Linked DNA regions of Homo sapiens: region 1 is linked to region 2. The links come from fine-mapping of genetic effects on gene expression. Tissue or cell type: sun-exposed skin. Region 2 holds a variant in brackets; the other region holds the start of a gene. All regions are shown on one strand. Distances are from middle to middle. Region 1 holds the start of LINC01948 (long intergenic non-protein coding RNA 1948). Region 2 has its middle 27 kb from the start of LINC01948.

The links. PIP is the estimated chance that this variant, and not a neighbour inherited with it, causes the effect.
Region 1: LINC01948 starts here. The variant in region 2 is fine-mapped to the expression of LINC01948 in sun-exposed skin (GTEx, PIP above 0.99).

Annotation. Positions count from the first base shown.
Region 1 is chr5:56,480,393-56,483,301 of GRCh38, forward strand. It overlaps LINC01948 (long intergenic non-protein coding RNA 1948), which reads right to left and starts at 1,377. Exons shown (of 5, transcript NR_104664.1): 1 at 1,161-1,377. RefSeq lists an enhancer at 1,146-1,305.
Region 2 is chr5:56,452,947-56,455,855 of GRCh38, forward strand. No RefSeq gene overlaps it. Among named protein-coding and RNA genes, the nearest start is that of LINC01948, 27 kb to the right of the region's middle. The variant A/G (reference allele first, on the strand shown) is at 1,458.

The sequences.
Region 1 (2,909 bases), 27 kb after region 2:
CCAAAAAGCCAACCCACTGGATCTAGAGACCTACGGACTTGCCCTCCTGATACTTGCAGCTGGTGTTTAAGGACGTGCCTGCCTTGGGCGATGGGCGGGTAGAAACCTCACACACCAAAGCCCATCGAGCTAAACTCAAGGTTGCGAACCCCAACCCCGGTGGGAACACGGTCTGCAGACACGCTCCCTTAAGTCCCTGTCGCACACAATAAATTGCTTTCTGAATATTCCCTTTACAACTGCAAAAAATAGAAATGGCTGTAACTGTGCAGAGAAAGAAAAGAGAAGCTGGGATGAGCTCCATCAGGGGCCGAATCTGCTTCTCGCTGGTGGATACTGTGATAAGAAACCTAGATCTGAACGGCCTCACAATGGCCTATTTATCCGGCTCTTACGCACGGCCGGCAGCCCCGGCTGGGAATCACGGGGGTGGCAGCCGTCCCCGGAAAACGGCGGCATTCCGACACAGGAAAGCCCGCGGATCAACTGATCTGCAGACAACGCTTCTTCCTTCCTGGGAAGCGGCCACAAAGGCAGCCAGCTGACCCCGGCCCAGCGCGGCTCCCGGCCGAGGAGGACAGGGGCGGGGTGGGGAGGGGGGGAATCGTCGCCCGCCCCGCCCCCACCCCCCAAGTTTCCTTTGGCAAAAGCATCCCAGGCGTGGTTCAGGCAGAGTCCACGCCAGCGAGGCTGGGGCCGAAACTCTCCACGCCAGGAAGGCGGGGTAGGCGGACCCGCCGCCCCCAGCCCCGCGCGCCCGCCGCGCCCCCCACGGCCCCCACCAGCTGGCTCTTCCGGCCGGGGCGGCCTTGGCCTGGGGCTGGGGTTGACTTTGGTGGGGGGACAGGAAGGACTGGCACAGCGCCCGCGACTGTCCCCTGAGGAGGACCCTCCCTACGACTTTTGGTCAAAAGCAAAAAGAAACACAGACATGTGCGTCACCCCGGGAAGCGCGCGGGGGTTTCGCTCGCGTTTCAGGAGCCGACTTCGCATCCTCCCTCGGTAGGGGGGTCGGGGGTTCCTAAAATTTACCCCCCAACTTCACTTCTCTGGCGACAGAGCACCTTAACAGTTCATTTCCCTCTCGCTCTCAAGTGAAAACATCTTATTTTTGTGTTAAAATGTATAAAGACACCATGAGAATTGGCAGGAGGTCAAACCGTAGATTCTGAGATGCTCCGGTCGCTCCCCAGGAAGCGCTGTTTTCGGAAGTGTTGACCCAGCAGCTGGTCCCTGCTGCTCTAATGACACGATGTGTGCTTTCACTTTTTCACTCCCAAAACGACGTGGTTTGGAGTCTTGAGAGCCTTGGAAATCGCTGCCCGTGGAGGGAAAGGTCTGGAGAGGCCAGGCCAGGAGAGCAGACATGCTGCAAGAAGCGGAGGCAGCCCTGTGAACTCGCCTGGCTCCGCAGGGAGGGGCGAGGCTGTCCAGGTCGCAGGTGGAGCTGGCCAGCTGCGAGCCAGGATGTCCTTGCTCTTTCCAAATTATACACAGTTTCCACAAGGAAAAAAGAGAGGGGTAGGGGGTCCAGGCAGATCTTCAGCTGTTTGTATACTCTGCACCAGGAGGCGCTATCATCAGCCCGGACCCCTACTCCACAGGACTGAGGAGACCACAATTCTTCCCTCCAGGCAGAATCGTGGACCCAATATTCCCGTCTCCCCGAATTCTCTTAACTCAGTATACTGCCATTAACAGCATAGTCAGCCTTCTGGACTTGAACTCCAGAAGGAATTTTGTCTCATTTAGTGCCTGCAGGGGAGCAGGATGAGATAGTACCTCTTGTACCGGCACAAGGTCTCTGAGTTGACTCTTACATAAACATTGCGCTGTTTCTAGGGACGGCATCATTTCTTGACCTAGAGAAACAAAGATATTGTGGGAAGGACCCCTGATGCTCAGTGGCAGTTTGGAGACCTGGCATTAGCCTTACTCAGTAAGGCTTCCTGATCTAGCAGGACTGATCCAGTCAGCTTTGATGATCCCCTAGCCTGGTACTGGGATTCTTCCAAACACCCATGAGATCACCCACATCTCACAGGGGCTGGTAGTGTTCCAGCAGAGAAAGGTGAGGGTAGCAAGCAGTAGTCACTTTGGGCCTGAAATGAACATCTTGGGGTTTTTATATCTGCCCACCCACTATGGGACATTATTGTCCCTTCCTCTTTGCTACAGTGTTTCCAGAAAATGAGAAGTAGCATCTTCTTAGAAATAGATTGGGTACCCTGTCTTAGACCTAGTTCCTTTTTTTTTGTTTTTTTGAGACGCTGTCTCACTCTGTCTCCCAGGCTGGAGTACAGTGGTGCGATCTGGGCTCACTGCAACCTCCGCCTTGGGGGTTCAAGTAATTCTCCTGCCTCAGCCTCCTGAGTAGCTGGGAATCCAGGTGTGTGCCACCACACTCGGCTAATTTTTGTATTTTTAATAGAGACAGGGTTTCACCATATTGGCCAGGCTACCCTTGAACTCCTGACCTCAAGTGATTCGCCTGCCCCAGCCTCCCAAAGAGCTGGGCAGTTACTTTTATTATAGTTCTAGATAACATAGAAAAGAACATGGAAAGCAGCTATGCAAGCAAAACACAAACACAAACAACCCTGTTAAAAAGTGGGCAAAAGACATGAACAGACACTTCTCAAAAGAAGACATGCAAGCAGCCAACAAATGTGAAAAGATGCTCAGCATTGCTGATTATCAGAGAAATGCAAATCAAAACCACGATGAGATCTCACACCACTCAGAATGACTATTATTAAAAAGTCAAAAAAACAACAGATGCTGGCAAGGCTGTGGAGAAAAGGGAACACATATACATTGCTGGCATTGCTGGTGGGAATGTAAATTAATTCAGCCACTGGGGAAAGTAGTTTGGAGATTTCTCAAATAAAACAAAACTACCATTCGAC
Region 2 (2,909 bases):
TGCAAGCCTTGGGTAAGGCACAAAACCTTCACAAAATACATCTGATATGAGATTACTTCTATGGTTAGAGAACAAGTTTGTCAAACCTTTTCTCTCAAAGACTCAGTAATAAATATTTTAGGCTCATGGGCCATAAGGTCTCCACTGCAACGACCCAACTCTCTGGTGTAGCGTGAAAGCAGCCACAGATCATGTGCACATGCATGTGCATTTGTGCTGTATTGTCAGTACACTGCTGCAGAACAGATTACCCCACACTCAGTCAATTAAAACAACACCCACTTATTATTTCTAGTTCTGTAGGTCAGAAGTCTGGGTGGACTTAGCTGAGCTGTTCACTTAGGTTTTACGCTGCTGACATGAAAGTATTGGCTGGCTGGGCTCTTATCTGGGGGCTTCCAAGCTCATTCAGGTTGTTGGAAGAATCCATCTCCTTGGGGTTGTAGGACTGAAGTCCTGGTTTCCCTGCTGCTTGTCATCAGGGCCACACTCAGGGCTCCTCTGGGCAGTTCATAGTACAGATGTTTGCTCTCTTCCTGGTCAGCTGTAGCATGTTTCTTTAACTTCTATTCTGCTACCAGCAAGAGAGAACCCTGTTGTAAATGGCTAGTATGATTAGGTTAGGCGCGCCTGGGTAATTTCCCTTTTGAAGAGCCCCCAAGTCAACTGATTAGTAATCTTAATGACATCTGCAAGAATTCCCTTTGCAATAAAATGTAACATAAATCACAGGAGTGATACTTCAGTACATTCAGAGGTTTCACTCACACTCAAAGGGAGGCGATTAAACAAGGATGAGCATCCCTGGGGGACATTTTAGAATTCTGCCCACCACAGCTGGGTTCTAATAGAGCTTTATTTATTGACACCAAAATTCAAATTGAATACAATGTTCTTGTGTAACAGAATAGTGTTCTTCTTTTGATTTCCTTCTTAATCATTTAAAAATGTAAAAATTCTTAACTATTGAGGCTGCACAGAAACAGGCAAAGGCCTGGATCTAGCCCATGGCCTGTGGTTTGCTGACCCCTGGGCTAGAAGATCAAGTAAACAAATCTTGAAAAAATACCAAAAGAGAAATTGTCATAGTGCCCCATCCAGTGCCTTGATCACAGTAGGTACTCAATGAATGAATGAACAGATACTGAGTTCCAGGAGAGACAGAAGACACATGCACCCCACATATCCTAGAGCTGAGTCTGCTGCTGTGGGTAAAATACAAACACTCCCATCTCTCCTTTTGAATGTGAGACCGGGCATAATCACAGGACGTTCAGGTGACCCAGAGCTCAGACTCCAGCGCCTTCCACATTTCCCTCAGGCTCCAAAGCAAAAGCACGGTATAATTACAAGGGCCATGTTGCAGTTTAGGTCAATCCAGCGCATGTTATCTGATAAATGAATTCCAAAGCCAAGCGAAACTCTCAGCAGTCTTTCCCCAAGATGCTGGGCTCAGC[A/G]TCAGCGTTCAGTTCTCCTTAATTACAGGTTGGCTTGTTTTGTTGCGCAATAGTGCCCCAGCCCGGATGAATGTCATTTCCTTTCTTGGTAGGTGAAATGGATGAGGTGAGAAAGGCCCGGACCACACCGAGAATCGAATGCATGGTAAACATAGGGCCACGGGGAAGTCTTGACACCGCTCGGCAAGATCTCTCACCGATGGATCCACCCTCTATGTTTTCTGATTGGACACATTTCCTGAGATGGGAAGGATCATGCTATTGGCTGAGGCTGCATCAGGGGAGTAATATTTACTCTGGAAAATCTGGGAGAGGGTGTCCCAGTCTGTGAACTACCCAGACCCCCACGTTCACAGAATACTAGGATGAGGAGGATCCCAAGGAACACCTGCATCAACTCTCATGTTCTACAAGGGAAGAAGCCAGGTCTCAGGGACATTAAATCACTTTCCCAAATGTACCAAGCTAGTTAGAGTGAAGAAAGATCCTATTTATCCCAGTTCCCAGTGAAATGCCATTTCTGCTCCATACCTTCTCTTCTCCATGTGTCCTATGCTCTCGCACTTTTTGTGCTGCTTAGCGTTTTGCCCAGAGGTGTGCCAGAGATTATTGCTCATTCTTTCTCCTTCCACGGTCACAACACCTCCCTGGGCTGGTGTCACCTCTTACTTTGCAATTCAAAACGTTGAAGAAGGTGCGACCTGTCTAGATTTTCGTGTAGCCTTCTCTCCTGATTGCTGTTTCAGATAACACATTCAGGGTGTTGGTAAATAGCTGTGAATCAGAGCCTCGGGGACAGCCTGGTTTGGTGTGTGGATAGTCTGGCTAATGTCATAGCAGTCCCTGCCTTAAATATCAATGTCCGAGGAAGGTGGGATGCTGTTTCCAAAAGATTGATTTGCACTTCTGCTAATATATGGCTGAGTGTTCTTTAAAATGGAGTATTCTGCTTGCCCTCTGCCACCTTCACAACACCCTAAATCTTTGGAAGAACGTGCTTCTTGTTGGACCTACAAGTGGGGAGCATCTTGCCTTGTCCGGCCTGTCCCAGTTTCTCGGGAACCCTTGAGGTTTCTGTCCCTGTTCCACATACTTAGCCCCATCTCCAGGCTTCCTGTCCATCAGCCTGAGAGACCATACTCTAGGAGTCTTAAGTGCTGAGTTCCCTAGTGGGAACTCACTGGACTGCAACGCCCCAAGTCCCTCCTTCTCTCTCTGTGCCTTGGGATGGGCTTTGTGCCAGCTGTGCCCATCCTGCTGTTCTGCAGCTTGGTGCCCCTTCCTAACGTGATGGGCCTCTGCTAAGGTCATGTTCTTTCACCAACCCAGGGTCCTTCCAGCTCCTCCACCAAAACAGTGCCCTGGTTGTCCTCACTTGTCCCATCTTCAGCAGGGAGGCACTTGATTCTGTGGCATTTGGCACTGCTCACTGGGCTTTCTTTTCTTTTCACT